3 separate regions of the Homo sapiens genome follow, and regions 2 and 3 are each linked to region 1. Evidence: fine-mapped expression QTL. A gene starts in region 1. Each other region holds a variant in brackets. All regions are shown on one strand. Distances are between the middles of the regions.

Evidence for each region.
Region 2: its variant is fine-mapped to the expression of RNASEH2C in whole blood (TOPMed, PIP above 0.99).
Region 3: its variant is fine-mapped to the expression of RNASEH2C in whole blood (INTERVAL, PIP 0.96).

What each region holds. Positions count from the first base shown.
Region 1 is chr11:65,717,574-65,725,748 of GRCh38, reverse strand. RNASEH2C (ribonuclease H2 subunit C) reads left to right here and starts at 4,951. Exons shown (of 4, transcript NM_032193.4): 1 at 4,951-5,162; 2 at 5,332-5,507; 3 at 5,585-5,704; 4 at 5,940-8,076. The coding sequence starts at 4,991. The coding sequence ends at 5,966. It overlaps KAT5 (lysine acetyltransferase 5), which reads right to left. Exons shown (of 13, transcript NM_182710.3): 11 at 7,000-7,159; 12 at 6,795-6,876; 13 at 6,145-6,702. The coding sequence ends at 6,568. RefSeq lists an enhancer at 4,806-4,875 and a silencer at 5,026-5,265.
Region 2 is chr11:66,009,584-66,017,758 of GRCh38, reverse strand. CST6 (cystatin E/M) reads right to left here and starts at 5,751. Exons shown (of 3, transcript NM_001323.4): 1 at 5,475-5,751; 2 at 4,808-4,933; 3 at 4,254-4,442. The coding sequence starts at 5,714. The coding sequence ends at 4,359. It overlaps CATSPER1 (cation channel sperm associated 1), which reads left to right. Exons shown (of 12, transcript NM_053054.4): 11 at 585-699; 12 at 843-1,007. The coding sequence ends at 869. RefSeq lists an enhancer at 3,694-4,269. The variant G/A (reference allele first, on the strand shown) is at 3,361.
Region 3 is chr11:66,026,650-66,034,824 of GRCh38, reverse strand. No RefSeq gene overlaps it. Among named protein-coding and RNA genes, the nearest start is that of CATSPER1, 4.3 kb to the right of the region's middle. The variant G/AG (reference allele first, on the strand shown) is at 3,821.

The sequences.
Region 1 (8,175 bases):
ACTTTGGGAGGCCAAGGCGGGCGGATCACGAGGTCAGGAGATCGAGACCATCCTGGCGAACACGGTGAAACCCCGTCTCTACTAAACACACAAAGAATTAGCCGGGCGTGGTGGCGGGCGCCTGTAGTCCCAGCTACTCGGGAGGCTGAGGCAGGAGAATTGCTTGAACCTGGGAGGCAGAGGTTGCAGTGAGCCGAGATCTCACCATTGCACTCCAACCTGGCTGACAGAGTGAGACTGCGTCTCAAAAATAAATAAATAAATATAAAAAAATCAGCCGGGCATGGTGGTGGGCGCCTGTAATCCCAGCTACTCGGGAGGCTGAGGCAGGAGAATCAGGAGAATTGCTTGAGCCCAGGAGACGGAGGTTGCAGTGAGCCGAGATTGTGCCACTGCACTCCAGCCTGGCTGACAGAGCGGACTCTGTCTCAAAAAAAAAAAAAAAAAAAAGGAGAGGAAAAAAATGCGTATTTCCTAGCTTTGTCCACTGGAAATATCTAGAAACAAAGGCTAACTCAGTAGCAATGAATACATCTAGTATCAGATTGGATTACTAAATATCATTTCCCACTGAAGGGAACCAGCGATCTTTGGAGAGATGTATAATTCCAAGTCTGGGGCAGGAAATGTACAAGATGAGCCAGGAACATCTTGTGGTACTGGAAAACAAAGATATGTATAAAAGATCACTAGGGTCATATCGAAAGATTCAGGAGATAACTTGAAGAGGCTTCCACTGGCAGAAGATGGGGAAATTTGCACCTCAGTAAGAATAATAACCACAATTATGTGAAACATAAAAGTGTTAATCCATTATTTATTATTTTTATTTATATTTATTTATTTAATATTTATTTAACATTTTTAAAAGGTCACCATTGGAATATGCTAGGGCAACAAATCATTATTTTAAGAACTGGAAAATAAAAGGATTTTTTTGAGATGCAGTCTCGCTCTGTCACCCAGGCTGGAGTGCAGTGGCTCGATCTCAGTTCACTGCAACCTCCACCTCCCGGGTTCAAGCAGTTCTCCTGCCTCAGCCTCCTGAGTAGCTGGGATTACAGGCATGCGCCACCACGCCCGGCTAATTTTTGTATTTTTTAGTAGAGATAAGGTTTCACCGTGTTGGCCAGGCTGGTCCCGAACTCCTGACCTCAAGTGATCCACCCACCTCAGCTTCCCAAAGTGCTGGGATTACAGGTGTGAGCCACTGTGCCCGGCCTAATTATTTTGTCTTTCTTATCCTCACTGTACCAACAGGCAATCAAATGGCTGATGGGGAGAGTTTTTCTTTATAGACCTATTTCAGCTAGTAAATGAAGAAGAAATGAGAGGACTTAGAATATCAGTTTTAGGCTGGGCACCATGCCTCACGCCTGTGATCCCAGCACTTTGGGAGCCCAAGGGAGGGGAGCAGATCACTTGAGGTAAGGATTTGGAGACCAGCCTGGCCAACATGGTAAAACCCCATCTCTACTAAAAATACAAAAATTAGCCTGGCATGGTGGCATGCGCCTGTAATCCCAGCTACTCAGGAGGCCAAGGCAGGAGAATTGCTTGAACCCGGGAGACAGAGGTTGAGCTGAGTGAGCCAAGATCGCGCCACCGCGCTCCAGCCTGGGCTACCAGGTGAGACTCTGTCCCAAAAATATGTGTGTGTGTGTGTGTGTGTGCGCGTACACACGCGTTTTAACCTCTAATGAATTAAAGGATCTAGGCAATGATCATCTATGGCTGCTAACCTCACAAAAAGAGGGAAAAACACAAAACCACCCATGAAGTAGTCTTGCCCTCTCCCCTCCCCAAAGAATCGAATTAAGCTTCTAGATGTAATTACAGAAAATACAGGTATAGATTACCTTGACACTATAGGAATGCAATTACTAATATCCAGACTACAGGAAACTTGCAAAACCAAAAACATAAAAATAAAAAATAAGATCCAACATCTACTCCCAATTTTTAAAAGCTCTTAGTAGTACAGCTTTAATGAGACATATATAACAAGTCAAAAGGCAGTTTCATGATTATTGGTGAAACAGCAGAAGCACTCCCGTGAAAGTTTCAGGAAAAAGACAATGTTGTCCTCTGATACCAGTAACATTTGAGAGACTGTTCTGCAAGTACTGGCCAAGGCAATTAGAAAAGAAAACAAATTACAAGGTGTAATGAAAAAAAAAAAACAAAAAACAAAAAACAAAAAGAAGATGTAATGGTGAGGTAAAAATTATTATTTGAAAGAGAGGTGACTAATTCTGGGGATCTTAAAATAAAATAAAAATCATTAGGAACAAAATAATTCAGTCGATATCTAGTTTAAAAATGGACATATAAAAATCAACAGGTTTGCTATAGACAAGGGGTCTGAAAACTATGGCCTGTGGTTCAAATCCAACCCCTTGTCTGTTTCTGCAAAGATTTACTGGAACACAACAACGCTCATTCATTTATGTATTGTCTATGACTGCTTTCATGCTATAACGGTGAAGTTGAGTAGCTGCGACAGAAGCCATAAAGTCCACAAAACCTAAAATATTTACTATTTGACCCCTTACAGAAAAAGTTTGCCAACCCCTGCTATAGATTAAAAAGAAAATCAGTTAGAAAATAAAATGAAAAAAATAAAAGCCCCAATTTTGGTTTTTAGAGAAAGGGTCTCCCTCCGTAACCCAGGCTGGTGTGCAGTGGTGCAATCGTGACTCGAACGGCAGCCTCAAACTCCTTGGCTTAAGTGATCTTCCCACCTTAGCTTCTTGAGTAGCTGGGACTACAGGCACATGCCACTGTGCCCCACTCATGTTTAAAAAAATTTTTTTCTTTGTAGGAACGGAGTCTTGCTATGTTTCCCAGGCCGGTCTCAAACTCCTGGCTTCAAGCAATCCTCCCCCATCTTGGCCTCCTAAAGCACTGGAATTACAGGTGTGAATCATCATGCCCAGCCCCTCAGTTCTTAATAGAAACAATTATTAATATAAGCTAAGAAGAAATAAACTTTACAATATGTATTAATAGCTATTATATATGAACAAAACCTCACAACTGTACAGATATCCAAGGAGATGTGAATAAATTGAATTATGTCTTTCCTGATAGAAAACTAAAGCAAGCCTTTTTCTAAATTAATCTGCCACTCTAGTGAAAGAGCACCAGGAATACATCTGCAGTTGAACAAATTGGGTATATTACTCCTGCACTCTGGGGAATTTCAATAAGAGGGTGCTAGAAAGGACTTATAGGAGGATTTGTGCCCATGTTCAGTGATTTCAGTCAGGGTTTAGGGAAGCCAGGCTTCTCTCTGGCTTGGATGCTGTCAGAGGTGGGGGTATGTCTATGACGGACTATCTTAATGAGTCTTGCCCAGAAGGAGAGAAGATTAGTTGGAGGCTAATGCTGTAATTGGTAAGGAAACAACAGTCACTCTCTTATGGGAGAAAGAGGGATGTTTCATGCCTTTTGTGGTTTGGACAGTGTTCACCTTTGCCAGCATTCAGATGTGACGATGGAGTGGTTCTGTTTCTGTCTTGCTCCCTCACGGTCACAGAGTGACCTTGTCCGATGCTGATGTTCTCTGAAATTGTTTATATTCAACAGAATACCAAGGCCAGCTCCCAGATGTGCAGGGATGTATAAATTAAACGCAATTTAAATCTAAATTTCCAGTTTTGTGTTTGTTTTATGTGAGAACTTGAAAAAATATATCTAAGTTGGGTGTCTGAACAAATAAACATTAGAGAAGAGCTGAGAAACCAAAGAGAGAAAATTGTGAAATCTAAAAGACTGAAAAGTGTTGATAAATTTGACTACAAAAAATTAGTCTTTGTCCTGGGTGCAGTGGCTCACGCCTGTAATTCCAGCGTGATTTGGGAGGCCAAGGTGGGCAGATCACTTGAGTCCAGGAGTTCAAGACCAGCCTGGGCAACATGGCAAAACTCCACCTCTACCAAAAATACAAAAATTAGCTGCGTGGTGGCGCAGGCCTGTGGTTCCAGCTACACAGGAAGCTGAGGATGGGGGATGGATTAAGCCTGGGAGGTCGAGGCTGCAGTGAGCCAATCAAACCACTGCACTCCAGCCTAGGCGAGTGAGACCTTGTCTAAAAGACCAAACAACCACAAAAATAAGTCCTTGTCCAGCAAAAATCACCTTTACACAGGTTTGCAAGACAGACCACAGATAAAACATTTTCAATGCATTTAAGAAAAGGGTTGATGTCCCTAATAAACTAAAAATGAATAACCTACCTACTAATCAATATAAAAAGAGTACTTTTCAGAATCGTTTTAGATTTTTACAACGACATGTGCCATTAAAAACAATAAAAGAAAAAAACCCGGCTGGGGGCGGTGTCTCACGCCTGTAATCCAAGTACTTCAGAAGGCCGAGGCTGGAGGATCGCCTGAGGTCAGGAGTTCGAGACCAGCCTGGCCAACATGGCGAAACCCAGTCTCTACTAAAAATACAAAAATTAGGTGGGCATGGTGGTGTGCGCCTGTAATCCCAGCTACTCCGGAGGCTGAGGCAGGAGAATCGCTTGAACCCGGGAGGCGGAGGTTGCAGTGAGCTGAGACCGTGCCTGGCACTCCAGCCTGGGCGACAAAACGAGACTCTGTCAAAAAAAAATAATAATAAATAAGAAAAAGAAAGAAAGAGGGAAGGACGGGAAGGAAGGGAAGGGAAGGGGGGAAGGAAGGGAGGCAGGGAGGAGGGGGAGGGGGGAGGGGGAAGGAGGGGGGAGGGGGAAGGAGAGGGGGAGAGGGGAGGGAGGAAAGAGGGGAGGGGGGAAGGAAGGAAGGAAAAAAACAAAACACAACTGGAAAACCCTAGGACTTGAACCCAGGGAAAGCGTTAGGGGGTAAGGGGACTACACTTCCCGTGAAGCTCCGCGGCGGCTTCCCGTGAGGCCCCGCGGAGGCTTCCTGAGAGGTCCTGCGCGCTTTCCGCGCCAGCTTCAGTGTCAGCTCGCGAGCCCTGGCGTCGCGTAGGAGGGAGGATGGAGAGCGGCGACGAAGCGGCCATCGAGAGGCACCGCGTCCACTTGCGCTCCGCCACATTGCGCGACGCCGTACCCGCCACACTGCATCTGCTGCCCTGCGAGGTTGCGGTGGACGGGCCCGCCCCGGTGGGGCGCTTCTTCACGCCCGCCATCCGCCAGGGCCCCGAGGGTGAGCCCTGCGGCCGGACTACGGCTCCCGGCAGCCCCCGCGCCGGCCTGCGCGCTTCTCATCGCCTGGGCTCCTGGGGATCGTGGTCCGTCCGGAGGTGGCGGGAGGGCAGCTCCGGGCTCGACCCAGCGTGGGTCCTGCCTGAGGCCCTTTGCGCCTCCCGCTCCAGGACTCGAAGTGTCGTTTCGGGGCCGCTGTCTACGGGGAGAGGAGGTGGCGGTGCCGCCTGGCCTCGTGGGATACGTGATGGTGACAGAAGAGAAGAAGGTGTCGATGGGGAAGCCAGACCCCTTGCGGGATTCCGGGACTGACGACCAAGAGGAGGAGCCGCTGGAGCGGGACTTCGTGAGCAAAGGGATAGGGTTGAAAGGGGGTGCGGGCGGGAGCTGTAGTCCCGATGCTGAGCCAGGCCCCTTCCCCAGGACCGCTTCATTGGAGCCACTGCCAACTTCAGCCGCTTCACCCTGTGGGGTCTGGAGACCATCCCTGGCCCGGATGCCAAAGTGCGTGGGGCCTTAACTTGGCCCAGCCTTGCGGCAGCGGTGAGTAGACGAGGAGTTCCGTCTTGCCCCCGGGTGGATGGGCTGGGGAGCACAATTGCGCAGACGGAGCCTGGAGGATTCTACTGGGTAGTGTGTGGGAAGCGTAGCTCCCTGACCACTCTTCCTAGCATGTCTAGAAGCGGTTATTCTGAACAGCTGGGTCCTTCCTCGGGTATGGGGGCCAGCTTGCCGCCCTGTCTTACAAGTCCAACAGTAGAGGCGACTCCTGTTGCAGATTCACGCACAGGTGCCCGAGGACTGAGAACCAGAGCTTGAAATTCAAAGCTGCGATCCCTTCACAGCAGTAAACCAGCTCTTTGGAACCGATTCCATCACCCCAATAAAGGAGCTCTTCACAGCACCTGTGAGTCTGGGCGCCTTAGAGCCCCTAAGCCAGCATGGGCCCTTTCCCCCTCCCCACCAAGAACTTTGCATGGCTCTGGCATATAGAAACAATTTATTGCCGGGGGCAATAGGGGTAAGAGAAGCCAGAAATTTTTGCAGCCAGCACCCACCCCACCCCCAACTTCTACTTTACAAAAGAAATTTTTACAATCACCAGCCCTCTGTACAGAGCTCCCCCATCCGGATCCCTTCTCACTGTACACAGCTGCCTGGCTCCCTCTGGTCCCTGCTTCAGAGGAGGCCTGGGCCTGTGGCCAGCTGACCTTGGAGTTGGTCTGAGCCCGGAGCTCGCCTTGGTGCTGGGCACCAGTGGGCCCCTGCCAGGCCTGTCCTCTCCTTTTTGAGCTGTCCTCAGCCCCATCTCCCTTAGAGTGCTTTGTGGGAGCTGCAGTGGGGGCGGGGTGGGCTATCAGCCCCAGTCCTGCTGCCGTCTTGGCACTGCAGTGGGCAGTGTCTGGTCACCACTTCCCCCTCTTGCTCCAGTCCTTGGGAGTGAAGTGCAGACACTTGGAGTCGATCCGCAGGAGCCGCTTGAGCATGGCCCGCTCATGGCCATCCACGATGTCCTCTGACAGTGTGAGGATGTACTGGCCCTGGGCAGAGGAGATGGGTTCAGCAGGTGGTCAGCCCACAGAGGACTGCACTCTGCATCCCACACACCTGTCTCCCCTGCCTGCCTCCCTACCTTGTAGTAGTTGATGAGATTGAGGTACTGCAGAGTGGAGATGACATCCTCCTTCTTGATGCTGGTGATTTCACTAATCTCACTGTGGGAGAGCACAGGTCAGGTTCCCTGAGGACCTTTATCTGTCCCCAGGAGCCCTGAGAGAGAAAGCCCAGGAACAGACAAGCCATGCCATGTACCCCCAGGTAGACAGCGCCAGGCTCACTTGATGGTGATCTGTGGCCTCTCCCCGCTCTCCGACTTCAGCCCCATCAGGATCTCCAGGATGGTCTGGGACCAGTAGCTTCGATAGGATAGGAGGCCAAGGTCTGAGAGGGGCTTCTCAGGGGTCCCTGTTTTCCCTTCCACTTTGGAGAGTTCATAGCCTAAAGCAATGGAGCAGGAGAGGGTGAGTAAGAGGTCACAGATGAACATAAGCAACATTTAAAAACACAGGTTGCCAAGGCAGGCTGCCTAGTTCCTATCATGGCCCTGCCACTTGGCAGTTCTATGCCCTCCACTTCTCTGTGCCTCAGTTCCCTCAGGAAGAACTGAGTATTCACTCTTTCCGTGCGCTGAGCACAGTGGAGGGCATGAGGGCACTGAGAGGAGCAGCTGCAGTCAACCATGAGGGTGATCAGAGGCCAGTGAAGGCTTATGGGCAGGGGATGCAGAGAAAATGGCTCATGGGAAGAAGGGGCCTCCAATTTTCCTTTGCCATCCCGGGCTCTGTGTCTAGCCATGTAAGGAAGTGGAGACAGATTCCTGTCTCTAATCCAGACCTGAGAATGCTTGAATTCTCAAAGTCCTCCTAGCTGGGACCTTGGGAGTGTCACCTGCTGTAAGACTTGAGTGGCCTGACTGGGTGGTTGTGAGGATGCAAGGAGAAAAGGTGCACCAAGGTGCTTCCTAAGTCGGGGAGACCATTCCTGGGAGCCACGTGACTGACCCCCACCATGGCTCTTTCCCTCCAACTCGTGCTGATAGCTGGCCGCTGGGAGGCCGTCCCCAGTGAGATCCTCAGACCCTGCACAGCCCTGAGTGGCTTCACATCTCTTGGTCAGTGTCTTCATTCTCCCCAGTCAGGGACCTGGGATGTTTGTTACTTCTAGAAGCCCTTCCTCACCCTCATAATGGACCTTAGCCCCTTGCTGGTCCCACTCACATCCCGTCTCCATTGCTGTCTGAGTTCCAAGACTGAGTTTCTTCAAGCATCCACTTGTGCTACCAGGCTGAGAAGTTCTGAGGATGTGACCCCATCTGGGCATCATTTAACCAATAAAATTTCTCGAATGGACCATAACCTTGATCAGGTAAAGCCTCTGTGTCTTCACCAGGTCAACAGCTAGAACTTCCTCCTTGTTTCTCAGGTCAGAGCTTGGTTATTCCAAGTGAGTGGTGA
Region 2 (8,175 bases), 290 kb before region 1:
CATTCATCTCCATCTCCTCGGAGTACCTTGCTGTGTTCATTGTTTCCAGTGTTCTTTGATGAATGGGTTGACAAGATGGCGGGGAGGGTGTGAATGGGACAATGGGTAATGTGGTGGGCAGATGAGTGGGTGGAGGGACAGGTGGGTGACTGACTACACAGCATGATGAAGGTGTCAATGGGTGGGTGGGGGGTGGCTACAGGGAAGAGCAGGTGGGTGGAGGGGGAGGTGAGTTGTGAGTGGCTGGAGGGCCAGATGGGTGAGTGACTGGATAAGGAGGTGGGTGGATGGATGGGTGGATGGTCGAGTGGGCGTATGGGGAGGAATGGGGCTGACAAATGGGTGGGTGGAGGGATGGGTGGTTAGGAAGATAAACAAAGCCAGAAGCCTCTGCGCTACAGGCAGACTTGGGCTCTTTCTCATATCTGGAAAAGGAGACCTCCTGGAAATGCAGGTCTGCAGTCATATAAATTTTGTGGGGAGGAGGCAGGCAAGAAGAGCCTCTGGGTGGTTCTGGGGTGCAGTAGGCCCAGCCAGCAGGTCAGCCCAGCCCCTGTCTCTGCGACCCCCCCGCCCACCCGCAGGCAGCAGGAGCTCCTGTTCCATTACCTGCAGCTGGTGGCAAGCGTGGAGCAGGAGCAGCAGAAGTTCCGCTCCCAGGCAGCCGTCATCGATGAGATTGTGGACACCACATTTGAGGTGAACCAGGCAGGAGCGGGAAGGGGCCGGCGAGGGGAACCCCAGGGGCTTGTAGCCAGAAATGGCTCCAAGTAACTCCCATGGGGATCGGGGAAGGCAAAGTCTGGCTCATTCACCCACCAGTGCCCCACTCACCCCTGCAGGCTGGAGAAGAGGACTTCAGGAATTGACCCCAGGAGGACACCAGATACAGACTTCAGCCCCTGGCAGTCTGCCCACCTGGGTGCACTGGGACGGGTCCCCAGATCTGCTGGAATGATTGTCCGGGCCCTGCAGAGCAGGGGCCCCAACAGAGTTTTTAAACCCCAGGAGGCTCCATGTCCTCACTGACTAGGCCAAGGCGCAGGGAAGGGAATTGGTGCACACACACGAACGAGTGTGTGCCCGTGTTGCATGTGAAAGGAGCTGCTCTTGGATCCCCTCCAGCCCTACCAGCGCCCGCATGCTAGCTCAGCCCAGCAGGGCATTAGCAGCAGCTGGAGGGATGAAGCAGAACGTGGGCTGAGCTCAGGTGCCGGCGGTGCCGGGAGGGCCGAGGAGGCAGTAACCCTGCTTTGGGGAGGAAGGCCCATCTGGCCCAAGAGTCAGGAGAAAAAGAATAGGCCTGAACACCCCAGGGTTACCAGGGCCTGGGGGCCCAATAGGCTCTAGGAATGGGGACTCAGAGCCCAGGAACTCAATCCTACCAGGACCCTCAGCTCCAGTAGAAGAGCACCAACCGGATGGGGATATCATGAACCCAGAGGTCGGAGGTCATTGCCATATCCTGCCCTTTCTGGGGTCAGACTCTAGAGCCCCACTGAGGGGAGGTGGAGTCGGGGCTGCTCAAGTCCTTCTGGCCTCAGGGCAAGGGGCGGGCAGGGATGTGTGGAGGACCCTGCTGCTGGGAGAGGGAAGCAGGGAATGAGGCTGAAGGCTGCGCCCCATTGCCTGCTCTAGGACTTAGATGACCTCCCCGACTGATAGCCTGAGCCTAGGCTGGATGTCCAGAGCCCCTGTCCCCATGGCTGGGGGTGACAGTGGGACACTGGCCTATGCTGGGTGCTGGAGACCTAGCACTGAGTCAAGTTCAAGCCTCGCCCTGGCCCCAGGGGTCTCTCCTTAAGTGGAGGGTTTTCCATTATCTACAACAGCCATCTCACCTCTAGTAGAGGCGAATCCAGGGTGCAGTTCAGGCCGGAGGGAGTCAGGAGCGGGAGCTGAAGGGCAATAGTTTTTTGCCAACCCTCCCATCTCTGGACCAGACCAGTCAGTGCTGGAGCTTCCAGGGTCCCAGGACAGAAGAAGCACCTCCCCTCCCTGGTCTGGCGGAAGGCACTGGCTGGCCCAGGGCCCAGGGCCCAGGAATAGACTATGCGGAGGAAATGCCATCTGGGATTTGGGCACAGATTCCAGGGGCGGAGAGGTCACCGGGCAGGCGTCTCTGGGCCTTGCTTCTCTCCACCACCTCACACATTCATTCAACAGGCATTTCCTGCCACCCACCCTGTGCCTGCCCCATGCTGGGAGTCCCTGCTTGGTGGCACATGGGAGCCCTTCCAAGCAGCAGGCCCCGCACACACCCTGGGCTGTCTGAGCTGCCACATCTGACAAGCTTGAGCAGAAGCAGGGCTGGATGTTGTCTCCTGGGTCCCCAGCTCCTGTCAAATGCCACCCCTCAGCTTCTCACTCCCAGGTGGGACCCAGGGTCTACTTCCCGTTTCCCCGTCTCTACCCCAATCTGGCCTCCAAAGGCCGACAGCAGGGCCTGGGAGCTGGGGCTGCTGCTTATTAGGCCCCAGCCTTGGGCAGGGGACCAGGCAGGCACAAGCAGGGTGTGAGGCCTTGTCAGAAAGGAAGGACCGTGGGATGCTCTCCGCAGCCACTGCAGTGCTGCCTGCCTGGGCCTGATGGTGCCTATACCTAGCACCCCCAAGGCCCATATCCCAAGTGTGGGTGTGTGCTTGTGCATCTGAGGAACCTCTGGGTGTGGCATGTGGGTCCTTGGGTTGTGTTTGAGTTTTGTGTGTACATCTCCAGGTTGTTTCTCTAGGGTGTGTTGCTTCTGTGCTCATGAGTTGCTAGGCTGTGTTTCTCTGGGTATGCATGTGATATCTGCCAGCATCTGAGTGTGTGCTCTGGGTGTCTGTGTGTGTATGTCTGGTGTGTTGTGCTTTGGGTGTGTGCGTGTGTATATGTATGGGGGGGTATGAATTGCAGCCACAAATTCAGATGTGCAAATGTTGCAATGCTGTTTTCTTCTTCTTTTTTTATTTTTAATTTTTTTGAGATGGAGTCTCGCTCTGTCTCCCAGACTGGAGTGCAGTGGCGCAATCTCGGCTCACTGCAACCTCTGCCTCCTGGATTCAAGCGATTCTCCTACCTCAGCTTCCTGAGTAGCTGAGATTACAGGCACCTGCCACCACACCCAGATAATTTTTGTATTCTTGGTTGAGATGGGATTTCACCATGTTGGCCAGGCTGGTTTTTTTTTTTTTTTTTTTTTTTTTGAGATGGAGTCTGGCTCTGGCGCCCAGGCTGGAGTGCAGTGGCGCCATCTCGGCTCACTGCAAGCTCCACCTCCCGGGTTCACGCCATTCTCCTGCCTCAGCCTCCCGAGTAGCTGGGACTACAGGCGCCCGCCACTACACCCAGCTAATTTTTTGTATTTTTAGTAGAGAC[G/A]GGGTTTCACCGTGTTACCCAGGATGGTCTCGATCTGCTGACCTCGTGATCTGCCCGCCTCGGCCTCCCAAAGTGCTGGGATTACAGGCGTGAGTCACCGCGCCCGGCCACCAGGCTGGTCTTGAACCCCTGACCTCAGGTGATCCATCCACCTCAGCCTACCAAAGTGCTGGGATTACAGGTGTGAGGCCGGCTGCAATGCTGTTTTCTTTAAATGACATTACATTGAATCTGTCCCCTCACCCCTCCTGTGGGCGCTAGACAATCTCTGTCCCTCTGCGGCTCCTAGTCTAGCCCCTTTCAGGCGTCTTGCCCAGGGCAAGGCAAGAGAGGCGTCCTTGTGGCGTGGAGCCCACAGTGTGGACTGAGAGGCACTGTCCTAGCCTTCATGGTCTCTTGGCCTGCAGGGACTCTGCCATCGTTGGGCCACATGCAGGTGGAGGAATCTTTATAGGCTGGGAGCTCAGTGTCCTGGGTGAGGACACTGCCTGATTGAAGCCCCCCATGCCACCCATGAGCTCCTCCTGGGGCTGAGTGGGAGCACAGCACAGACTCCTCCTCAGAGTGCTCCCAGGCAGCCGGCCCTGTTCTTATCTCAGGCCATCGCCCCTCCTCTGTGAGTCTGCCGCCACCCCTGACCTCTGAGAATATTGGGAGTCTCTGGCTGTGTGTGGGGGCTCTAAGGTTTGTTCCTCTATGCCTGTGATGCTGGGGTGTTTGGGGGCTCCACATTTGGAGGCTCAGCCCTGCACCTTCAGCACTGTCTGGGCTGGGACAGCAGCAGCTCTGCTGCAGGTGGCAGGGTGACCTCTCAGCTTGGGCTGGGGAGCTGGGAGCTGCCAGAAGTGGGAGTGGGGGATGGGGGCAGAAGCGAAGCACTTGGAAGAAACCAATGCAAGAAGCAGCACTGGCCATTTATTGTGACAGATACGGCCCACGGACCTGAAGTGCCCTCCACCATGGCCCCAAACCCAATGGCCTTCGCCCTCGGGGACTTATCACATCTGCACACAGTTGTGCTTTAGGAGCTGAGAGGAGTTCTGCCAGGGAACCACAAGGACCTCAAAGTCACAGCGCAGCTTCTGTGGAGGGAATATGGGGGAGAAGGAGGGGTGAGCCCAGCCTCGACCTGTCTCCTCCCAACAGCCAGCCCTCTGCCTGCCAGGCTGCTCCAGGCCAAGAGAGGGACAATCACTGACCCAACGGATGTCAAGCCGCATGTCTGGGGCTAGACTCCAGATCTTGGTAGCCAACTTCCCCATTCCCGAGGGAAGCCCCAGCTTCCTTTCTGCACCCCATCTTGGCCCAGAGGCTGACTCATCCAGAAGGACGACAGGTTCAGCCAGACATCTAGACATCTACGTGTCCAGCCAAACCAGTTCAGGATGGACAACCTGAGTGCCTGAGGCTCTGGGGAGGGCTGGGGCTGGAGGAGCCCAGCTGTTACCTCCTGCTGCGCCCCTGCTGCCAGGGGGCAAGTGGTGAGGTCGACGTGGTCTCCAGTGACCCTGGTCTTGCGGCAGTCTGTGCTCCCCATCTCCATCGTCAGGAAGTACTTGATGCCGGCCACCAGCTGGGGGCATAGGGTAGGGGCAGGTCAGGGGTCTTGACCCTTGATCCTCACTTCTCACCTCTTGATATATTCTCCTGTTGCCCCCAGGCACTCAGGTGGGGAGAGAGGGAGAGGGGATGATTCAGACGGGGTGGGGGGGGGTGGGGGGGGGTGGGGGGGGGAGTTCTGGTGGGGATGGAGGGTGGAGAGGCCTGGAGGCTGAGCCCCACCAGCAGCCTTGGCAGACATCAGACATGCCCCATCTAGGGAGCTGCCCACTGTCCCCACCTGCCTTCCCTCCTCCCCGATCCACCCCATCAGGGCAGAGACTAGGACCAGGCAAGCCAGGAAGGCAGGTAGTGCAATACAGGGTTTAATTATGTCTTTCCTTGAAATTTAGATGGTTGTCCATCGTGGAGTTTTAGCATTAATTCGATTTTTAAAATATTGCATGAAAATATCCCGATTGCGCTTTTAGGCCCCCTTCATGCACGCTGGGGCAGCGCCTGTGGCCTCCCCCATCTGGGCCGGGTGTCCCCTCCCAGCACCCCGCCCGCCGCACCTGGCTCTGCGCCTTGATGATGTGCGTGTCTCGGAAGTAGTAGATGCTGTTGCTGCCCATGTTGTAGCTGGCCACGGCCGCCTGCGCCGCCTTCTGCACCTGCGGGTCGTCGGGCGACAGGTCCCGGAGTTCTCCGACCATGCGCTCCTGCGGCCGGGCCCGGGCGTCGCGTGGCAGCGCCAGGAGGCAGAATGCGACCAGGGCCAGGCCCAGCGCCAGCGGGAGGTTCGAACGCGCCATGGCCGTCAGTGCCGTCGGAGCCCTCAGAGCCGTGAGTGCCGAGCTTGCGGCCGCGCAGCTTTTACCCGCTGGGCCGCCCCGCCCGACGCCCGCGATGCGCCCCCGCGGCCTGGAGCTGGGGCGGGGCTCGAAGTTGCCGGGGTCCTGCGAGGTTCAGGGAGCCCAGGAGGCCGAGGGGGCGGCGCGCACCCGCGTGCCAAGACGCTTCCCTGCCCTCCAGGACACACCTGGCCCGGGGAGGGAGAGGACAGCGACAGTCCCCAGCAACAAGTGCCAGTACAGGGACGGTTCACGGGAGGGCTGTCCAGAATGAACTACCAACCGCAGCTCTTCGTGGGCTCTTACTGTTGCCACCATTTCCTAGCTGTGTAACCTCGGAGAAGTCACTTAACCACTCGCTGCCTCAGTTTCCTCTTCTGTACAATGGGTGTTGTGAGGATTCAGTGAGCTGAAACAGGTAAAGTTCTTAGAAGAGGTCTGGTGCTGGATAAACAGCAGGTGAGTAGGACACATTACTGCTCAGCGCTGCCTGACAACCTTCCTGGAGCGCGAGTGACTAATGTTTCTACCTGGCCAGGCACCTAGGCATGCTTGTAATTCCAGCACTTTGAGAGGCCAAGGTGGGAGGACCACTTGAGCCAAGGAGTTCAAGTCAGTGAATCGTGATCTCACCACTGCAGCATTCCAGCCTGGGCGACAGAGCTAGACGCTGACTCAAAAAAAAAAAAAAAAAAAAAAAAAAAAAAGAAGGCCGGGCATGAGGGCTCACACTTGTAATCCCAGCACTTTGGGAGGCCGAGGCAGGCAGATCACTTGAGGTCAGGAGTTCAAGACCAGCCTGGCCAACATGGTGAAACCCCGTCTCTACCAAAAATACAAAAATTAGCCAGGCGTGGTGGCACACACCTGAATTCCCAGCTACTCAGAAGGCTGAGGCAGGGGAATTGCTTGAACCTGGGAGGCAGAGGTTGCAGTGAGCCAAAATGGCACCACTGCGCTCTAGCCTGGGTGACAGAGAGAGACTCTGTCTCACAAAAAAAAAAAAGAAAAAAGAAAAAAAATAGTTTCCACTTTACAGAGAAGGGAAAATGGATTTGCCCAAAGACACCGGCAGGAAATAAATGGTGACACTGGCTTGTGTGTGCTGACAGTCTAAGTCAAATCTGTGGTCTTAAACCAGACTGAGCCCACAGGACACAAACTGCCCAGAAGGAGGGGGTGTCAGTCATGTCAGCTCTGCCATCTTACTGACGGCATGGCTTTGGGCAAGTCCCTCAACCTCCCACACAGAGCCTCCGTGCCCTCGTCTGAAAGACACCTTATCTCCTAAGTTTGTTCTGATATTGATGTTTCGAATCTGGCTGTCCCGTGGATACAGTGAGCATGTGCTGGAGGTACCAGCAAACAAGGCCCATGACTGTGTTTTTAAAGACTCCAATAATTGCCAGGTGTGGTGGCTCACGCCTGTAATCCCAGCACTTTGGGAGGCCGAGGTGGGCAGATCACTTGAGGCCAGGAGTTCGAGACCAGCCTGGCCAACATGGTGAAACCCCATCATAGCCCGCACGGACCTAGGGGGACTGAACAAAGCCGGGCAAACGTGGGAATAAAAGACAAGAGACAAAAGAGTATATTTGGAAGAAGGGGTCAGGGGGCACCTTGCCTCTAGTGGACAAGGGCCCTGAGCTTTACACAGCCCTCTGTATGTAGTAGGCAAAAGAGATAGCGAGAAAGGGGGAGGGTGATTGTCGGGTATGTCAGGTAATTGTCGGTCAGCACTTTGGTTCACAGCAGGCTTGTGAGACTGCATCCTTTGAACAATAGGTGCTAATTTTCTCAGTAGATAACTTCAGGGACCCCAGTGCCAAGGAGTAAGGCCCTCAGCAAACCTTTTGGTGGCAGGGCAGTGGGAGTTTGCCCACATCCTGCATTCGTGATAAACAGGTGGCTGTTTGATCATATAGCCTTCAGTGGAATGCTGAGTTGGTCACAATCCCTTTGGCCCTTTCGGCTCCCAACACCCCATCTCTACTAAAAATACAAAAATTAGCTGGGTGTGGTGGTGCACACCTGTAGTCTCAGCTACTTGGGAGGCTGAGGTGGGTGAATCACTTGAACCTGGGAGGCAGAGGTTGCAGTGAGCTGAGACGGCACCCACTGCACTCCAGCCTGGGTGACAGAGCAAGACTCTATCTCAAAAAAAAAAGACTCCAATAATTAATTGATTATTATTAATAGGTGGTGATCTATTAATCACACGGTAGCTCACACCTGTAATCCCAGGACTTTGGGAGTCGGAAGCAGGAGGATCACTTGAGGCCAGGAGTTTGAGACCAGCCTGGGCAACATAGTGAGCCGTCTCTACCAAAAAATCTAAAATAAATTAGCTGTGCATGGTGGTGCACGCCTGTGGTCCCAGCTACTCGGGAGGCTGAGGTGGGAGGATTACTAGAGTCTGGGA
Region 3 (8,175 bases), 310 kb before region 1:
CCTAATCTGATCCCCAAAACCTTCCACCTACATCTCCCATTGCCCCCTACGCCATCATATTCCAGCCACACTGGATTACATTCCATTCCCTGAACACAACGGTATGTCAGGTCAGCCTCTTATTGGCTCTTGAAAGCTGAATTGTGGCCGGGCACGGTGGCTCATGCCTGTAATCCCAGCACTTTGGGAGGCGGAGGCGGGCGGATCACAAGGTCAGGAGATGGAGACCATCCTGGCTAACACGGTGAAACCCCATCTCTATTAAAAATGCAAAAAATTAGCCGGGCGTGGTGGCGGGCGCCTGAAGTCCCAGTTACTTGGGAGGCTGAGGCAGGAGAATGACGTGAACCTGGGAGGCAGAGCTTGCAGTGAGCCAAGATCGCGCCACTGCACTCCAGCCTGGGCAACAGAGCGAGATTTCGTCTCAAAAGAAAAAAAAAAAAAAAAAAAAGAAAGCTGAATTGTGCAAGCCAGTTGTTGGACACAACCATTATTAAAAATTAAATTTTCCTTGGGCGTGGTGGCTCACGCCTGTAATCCCAGCATTTTGGGAGGTCGAGGCAGGTGGATCACTTGAGGTCAGGAGTTTGAGACTAGCCTGGCCAACATGGTGAAATCCCATCTCTACTAAAAATAGAAAACTTAGTTGGGCGTGGTGGCACGTGCCTGTAATCCCAGCTACTCAGGAGGCTGAGGCAGGAGAATTGCTTGAACCCGGGAGGTGGAGGTTACAGTGAGCCAAGATCATACCACTGCACGCCAGGCTGGGCGACAGAGCAAGACTCTGGTGCAAAAAGAAAAAAAAATTAAATTGTATAAAATTACAATTAAATAAATTGTATAAATAATAAAGACAATAGGCCGGGCTCAGTGGCTCGCACCTGTAATCCCAGCACTTTGAGAGGCCGAGGCGAGCGGATCACGAGGTCAGGAGTTCCAGACCAGCCTGACCAACATGATGAAGCCCCGTCTCTACTAAAAATACAAAAATTAGCCAGGCATGGTGGCGTGCGCCTATAATACCAGCTACTCAGGAGGCTGAGGCAGGAGAATCACTTGAACCCGGGAGGTGGAGGTTGCAGTGAGCCAAGATTGCACCACTGCACTACAGCCTGGGCGACAGAGTGAGACTGCGTCTCAAAAAAATAATAAATAAGTAATAAAGACGATAAATACTCAAAACTCATCACTTACTAATTAGTTTACTACAATTTACTTTTTTTTTTTTTTTTTTTGAGACAGGGTTTCACTTCCGTTGCCCAGATGAGTACAGTGGTGAGATCTTGGCTTACTGCAGGCTTGACCTCCCTGGGCTCAGGTGATCCTCCCACCTCAGCCTGGCATCCCTGGTGCCACTCTGTCAGGCTAAATCTTTTTTTTTAGTAGACAGGGTCTTACTATGTTACCCAGGCTAGTCTCAAACTCCTGAGCTCAAGCGATCTGCAGGCGTTGGCCTCCCAAAATGCTGGATTACAGGTGTGAGCCACTGTGCCCAGCCAGTAGTGTGTTATTTACTGCCTATCTCTTCCAGGACAGCACTTGGTGGTGTTACATTGATAGCCTGAAATCAGCCATCGTGAGAGTATTTACACTACAAATCAACAAACATTATACATCAGAGGTTTTATTGATTTGTTGACTGTCTAGACCAGGGATGAGCAAACTACAAGCAAATCTGGCTTACCACCTGTTTTTGTAAATAAAGTTTTATTGGAACACAGCCACATTCATGCATTTACTTCTTGTCTAATGCTGTTTATGCTCTACACTGGCAGAGTTGGGTAACTGCAATAAGATCATATGGCATCCAAAGCCTAAGACATTTACCACTTCGTGGAAGGAGTTTGCTGACCTCTAGCCTGGATTTAAGAAAACACTGGAGGGGCCAGGCACGGTGGCTCATGCCTGTAATCCCAGCACTTTGGGAGGCCAAGGCAGGCAGATTACTTGAGGTCAGGAGTTCGAGACCAGCCTGGCCAACATGGTGAAATCCTGTCTCTACTAAAAATACAAAGATTTGCTGGGCGTCAGATTTGCTGGGCGTCAGGGCAGGTGCCTGTAATCCCAGCTACTTGGGAGGCTGAGGCAGGAGAATTGCTTGAACCTGGGAGGCAGAGGTTGCAGCGAGCCAAGATTGCGCCACTGCACTCTAGCCTGTGCAACACAGTGAAACTCAGTTTTTGTTTTTGTTTTTTTTTTGAGACGGAGTCTCGCTCTGTCACCCAGGTGGGAGTGCAGTGGCGCAATCTTGGCTCACTGCAAGCTCCGCCTCCCGGGTTCACGCCATTCTCCTGCCTCAGCCTCCCGCGTAGCTGGGACTACAGGCGCCTGCCATCACGCCCAGCTATTTTTTTTGTATTTTTAGTAGAGACGGGGTTTCGCCGTGTTAGCCAGGATGGTCTCGATCTCCTGACCTCGTGATCCACCCACCTTGGCCTCCCAAAGTGCTGGGATTACAGGCGTGAGCCACCGTGCCCGGCCGAAACTCAGTTTTTTTAAAAAAAGAAAAGAGGCTGGGCTTGGTGGTTCACGCCTGTAATCTCAGCACTTTGGGAGCACAAGGCGGGTGGATCACCTGAGGTCAGGAGTTCAAGACCAGCCCAGCCAACATGGCGAAACCTCGACTCTACTACAAATACAAGAATTAGCGGGTCGTGGTGGTGGGCACCTGTAATCCCAGCTACTTGGGAGGCTGAGGCAGGAGAATTGCTTGAACCCGGGAGGTGGAGGTTGCAGCAAGCCGAGACTGCATCATTGTACTCCAGCCTGGGTAACAAGAGCAAAACTCCGTCAAAAAAAAAAAAAAAAAAAGCAAAAAGAAAAGGAGGGAAGGAAGGAAGGAAGGAAGGGAGGGACAGACAGACAAGACAAGAGCGCCAAGCATGGTGATTTATGCCTGTAATCCCAGCATTCTAGGAGGCTGAGATGAGAGGATCACTTGAGCCCAGGAGTTTCACACCAGCCTGGTCAACATAGTGAGACCCAGTCTTTACAAAAACAAGGTTTAAAAATTAGCCAGGTGTGATGGTGCATACCTGTAGTACCAGCTACTTGGGAGGCTAAAGGGGGAGGGAGAATTGCTTGAGCTCAGGAGTTTGAGGTTACAGACAGTGGTGAAGGAAAATTCTCCCAGTGGGTGGAACTTTGGGGCAATACATCTGTGGATGCTTTCTGTGGAGGAAAGGTGGCCTAAGGTACAGATTTACATGGACTGGTGAGCAGCATCTGATAGGCTGGCCAGCTGCAGAGACTTTGAAAGAGCACAACTGGCAATCTGATGGCCTAGGAGACAGGACTGTGGCCAGCTTCTCAAAATAGTCACAGGGTGGGAAGATTCCCATATGAAGTGCCCATCAGAGAGCCATCGGTGCAGCAGCCCTCGGTGATGAGATGGGATGACTCATGCTGTAGATTGTGTCAGCCTCTTTACCTGGCCAGACCCAGGCTTTCTCAATGGTCCCATACAGAGTGCTCCACCACCAGATGTCTGCGTGTGCTAGAAAATGGCTGTGCTCAATTGGCCGGGCGCGGTGGCTCACACCTGTAATCCCAGCACTTTGGGAGGCCGAGGCAGACGGATCACTTGAGGTCAGGAGATGGAGACCATCTTGGCTAACACGGTGAAATCCTGTCTCTACCAAAAAAATACAAAAAAATTAGCTAGGCCTAGTGGCGGGCGCCTGTAGTCCCAGCTACTCGGGAGGCTGAGGCAGGAGAATCCCTTGAACCTGGGAGGTGGAGGTTGAGGTGAGCCGAGATCGTGTCACTGCACTCTAGCCTGGGCGACAGAACGAAACTCCGTCTCAAAAAAAAAAAAAAA[G/AG]AAAGAAAGAAAAGAAAAGAAAATGGCTGTGCTCAGGCCAGGCGCAGTAGCTCATGCCTATAATCCCAGCTACTCGGGAGGCTGAGGCAGGAGAACTTGAACCTGGGAGGCAGAGGTTGCAGTGAGCCAAGATCGCATCATTGCATTCCAGCCTGGGCAACAAAAGTGAAACTCTATCTCAAAAAGGAAAAAAAAAAAAGAATGCCTTGTCTATGTTTTTATACAGTGCTTTTAATTCATTTCAGTTTTTCTAAGTTTTTTTTTTTTTTTTTCCGAGACAGAGTCTTGCTCTGTCACCCAGGCTGGAGTGCAGTGGCACGATCTTGGCTTACTATAACCTCCACCTTCTGGGATCAAGCAGTTCTCAGGTCTCAGCCTCCTGAATAGCTGGGACTACAGGCTCCCACCATCATGCCCAGCTGCATTTTGTTTTTGTTTTTGTATTTTTAGTAGAGCTAGGGTTTTGCTATATTGGCCGGGCTGGTCTCGGATTACTAGCCTCAAGTGATTCACCTGCCTCGGCCTCCCAAAGTTCTAGGATTATAGGCATGAGCCACCATGCCGGCTTTTCTTTTAGTTTTTAAAATTAAAAACAAATATATTGCCAGTCTTGGTGGCTCACGCCTGTAATCCCAGCACTGTTGCCCAGGCTGGAGTGCAGTGGCACCATGTCGGCTCACTGCAACCTCCGCCTCCCAGGATCAAGCGATTCTCCCACCTTGGCCTCCCAAGTAGCTGGGATTAGAGGCACCCGCCACCACACCCAGCTAATTTTTGTATTTTTAGTAGAGACAGGGTTTCACCATGTTGGCCAGACTGGTCTCGAACTCCTGACCTCAGGTGATCCTCCTGCCTCAGCCTCCCAAAGTTCTGGGATTACAGTCGTGAGCCACCACGCCCAGCCTGCCTGGCCACATTTTTTAAATTTTATTTTATATATTTTTTTGAGACGGAGTCTCGCTCTGTTACCCAGGCTGGAGTGCAGTGGCGCCATCTCGGCTCACTGCAAGCTCCGCCTCCCGGGTTCACGCCATTCTCCTGCCTCAGCCTCCCAAGTAACTGGGACTACAGGCGCCCGCCACCACGCCCGGCTAATTTTTTGCATTTTTAGTAGAGATGGGGTTTCACTGTGTTAGCCAGGATGGTCTTGATCTCCTGACCTCCTGATCCACCCACCTCGGCCTCCCAAAGTGCTAGGATTACAGGCATGAGCCACTGCGCCCAGCCTGCCTGGCCAGTTTTTAAAACATTTTCAAGTGAGTGAGTCTTTGTTGAATAAAGGCAAACGTTTTGCTCCATCATTACTTTTCATCTCCAAGAGTTTCTGACACCAGTGCCTCTCTGTGAAGAAAGCAGTGTGTTGTGACAACATCAAGTTTTTGTTTGTGGTTTTGTTTCTTTCCAAGAACAGTAAAAATTCTTATGGAGCTAACCACTGATTTGAACCATCAGTATAAATGCCAAGGTAGTTCTTCCAAGACAGACTTTTTGATGATTCCTGATATGAAATGACATTAAATCTATCTTGGCTTTTTGTTTGTTTGGAAAAGCTGAAACATTTTCTCGATGATCATGCTGACCATTTACAGATCTTACTAGTGCTATGGCGTGGTAAGCATTCACCATTTTATTGGTGAAATAAGTTGACTCATCAGCCAGGATAAAGATTATGTTGTGGCCGGGTGTGGTGGCTCACGCCTGTAATCCCAGCACTTTGGGAGGCTGAGGCGGGCGGATCACGAGGTCAGGAGATCAAGACCATCCTGGCTAACATGGTGAAACCCCATCTCTACTAAATATACAAAAAATTAGCCGGGCGTGGTGGCGGGCTTCTGTAGTCCCAGCTACTCGGGAGGCTGAGGCAGGAGAATGGCGTGAACCCAGGAGGCGGCATTGCAGTGAGCCAAGATCGCGCCACTGCACTCCAGCCTGGGCGACAGAGGGAGACTCTGTCTCAAAAAAAAAAAAAAAAAAAAGCAAGTTGTTTTTCAGTTTATTATCAAGAAAACAAAAACGAAAACCTGTTCAGTATCAGAGATCATGTCATCAACATGTGAGGTTGTTGTTCTCTCTCAGGGTAGAGTCTTCTCTTTTTCTTTCTTTCTTTCTTTTTTTTTTTTGAGATGGAGTTTCGCTCTTGTTGGAATGGTGTGATCTCAGCTCACTGCAACCTCCGCCTCCTGGGCTCAAGCAATTCTCATGCCTCAGCCTCCCAAGTTCCCAAGCAGCTGGGACTACAGGCGCACACCACCACATCCAGCTAATTTTTTGTATTTTAGTAGAGACAGGGTTTCACCATGTTGCCCAGGCTGGTCTCAAACTCCTGAGCTCAGGCGATCCACCCGCCTTGGCCTCCCAAAGTGCTGGGATTACAGGTGTGAGCCACCATGCCCAGCCCACACAAATTGTTTCTTTGTCTGCTGCTGGCAACAGATAGTGAGCTCCTTAAAACAGGAGCCGTGTCTCTTTCATCACTGGGAACCCAGCAGCCACTATGGACATGGCTCTGACCAAGCACTCAAGAAGCTGAGACCCATAAGCTTCCAGAAGAGCTGCGCTGTGCACATATGAATTCAGCATACAGGGCAAGCTCTGCAGTGGATTCCAGGAGGAAGACAGGACAGCATGAAGGTTACAGATACAGACTTGGAGTGAGATAGCACTGACGGTAAGTTTTCATTCATCAAGCAACTCATTTATATTCTCTGAGCCATAGCACCTTTGTCTGTCAAATGGGGATAAACAATATCTACCATGTGGGGCTATTGTGAGGATTAAATTTAATGTGTATGGGCCGGGCACGGTGGCGCATGCCTGTAATCCCAGCACTTTGGGTTGTCGAGGCGGGCAGATCGTTTGAGATCAGGAGTTCGAGACCAGCCTGACCAACAGGGTGAAACCCCATCTCTACTAAAATACAAAAGAAGTTAGCTGGGCGTAGTGGTGCACGCCTGTACTTTCAGCTACTTGGGAGACTGAGGCAGGAGAATTGCTTGAATTCAGGAGGTGGAGGTTGCTGTGAGCTGAGACCATGCCACTGCACTCCACCCTAGGTGACAGAGCAAGACTGTGTCTCAAAAAAAAAAAAAGAAAGAAAGAAAACAAAATGTGTATGAAGCAATCCTCAATAAATGATGGCTGATAGTTTAATTTTGGTAATAACCCTAAAGGGGGGTTCCAAGATCAAGAAGAGAATAATAATGCCAATTAACATGTATTGGCCAGGCATGGTGGCTCACACCTGAAATCCCAGCACTTAGGGAGTGCGAGGTGGGTGGATCATTTGAGGTCAGGAGTTCAAGAGCAGCCTCGTCAACATGGTGAAACCCCGTCTCTACTAAAAATACAAAAATTAGCTGGGTGTGGTGTGCACCTGTAGTCGCAGCTACTAGGAAAGCTGAGGCAGGAGAATTGCCTGAACCCAGGAGGCAGAGATTGCAGTGAGCCAAGATTGCACCCCGGCACTCCAGCCTAGTGACAGAGTAAGACTCTGTCTCAAAAAAAAAAAAAAAAAAATTAGCCGGGGTGGGGTATGGTGGTGGGTGGCTGTAATCCCAGCTACTCAGGGGGCTAAGGCAGGAGGCTCACTTGAACCTGGGAGGCAGAGATTGCCATGAGTGGAGATCATGCCGCTGCACTCCAGCCTGGGTGACAGTGAGACTGTCTCAAAAAACAAAAACAAAAACAAAAAAACATGGGCTGGGCGCAGTGGCTCACACCTGTAATCCCAACACTTTGGAAGGGCAAGGCAGGCGGATCACGAGGTCAGGAGATCAAGACCATTCTGGCTAACATGGTGAAACCCCGTCTCTACTAAAAATAGAAAAAGTTAGCCGGGCGTGGTGGTGGGCGCCTGTAGTCCCAGCTACTTGGGAGGCTGAGGCAGGAAAATGGCATGAAGCTGGGAGGTGGAGGTTGCAGTGAGTCAAGATCGTGCCACTGCACTCCAGCCTGGGCGACAGAGCGAGACTCCATCTCAAAAACAAACAAAGAAACAAACAACAACAACAACAACAAAAACCATGTATTATGCTGTTAATATAAGGCTTACATATCTTAACTTTTTTGATCCTGTGGGCTAGGTATTATTATTCCCATTTTACAGAGGAAGAAACTGAGGCACGGGAAAGTTCAGCAACAAGCCCAAGGTCACACACCTACTTATGAGGGAGTCAGGCAGTCTTCACCCCAGAGCCAGCTGATCTCTAGATGGGACTGAAGACTGGACCACTTGGACCATTTTCTTTCCAACAACAGGGCTAAAGTAGCTGATGAAGCCATGGCGCCCCCATGGACTTCTTTGTCCAGCTTTGCCAGTGACCTGTGAGGTCACCTTGGTCTAGTCCTTCCCTTTT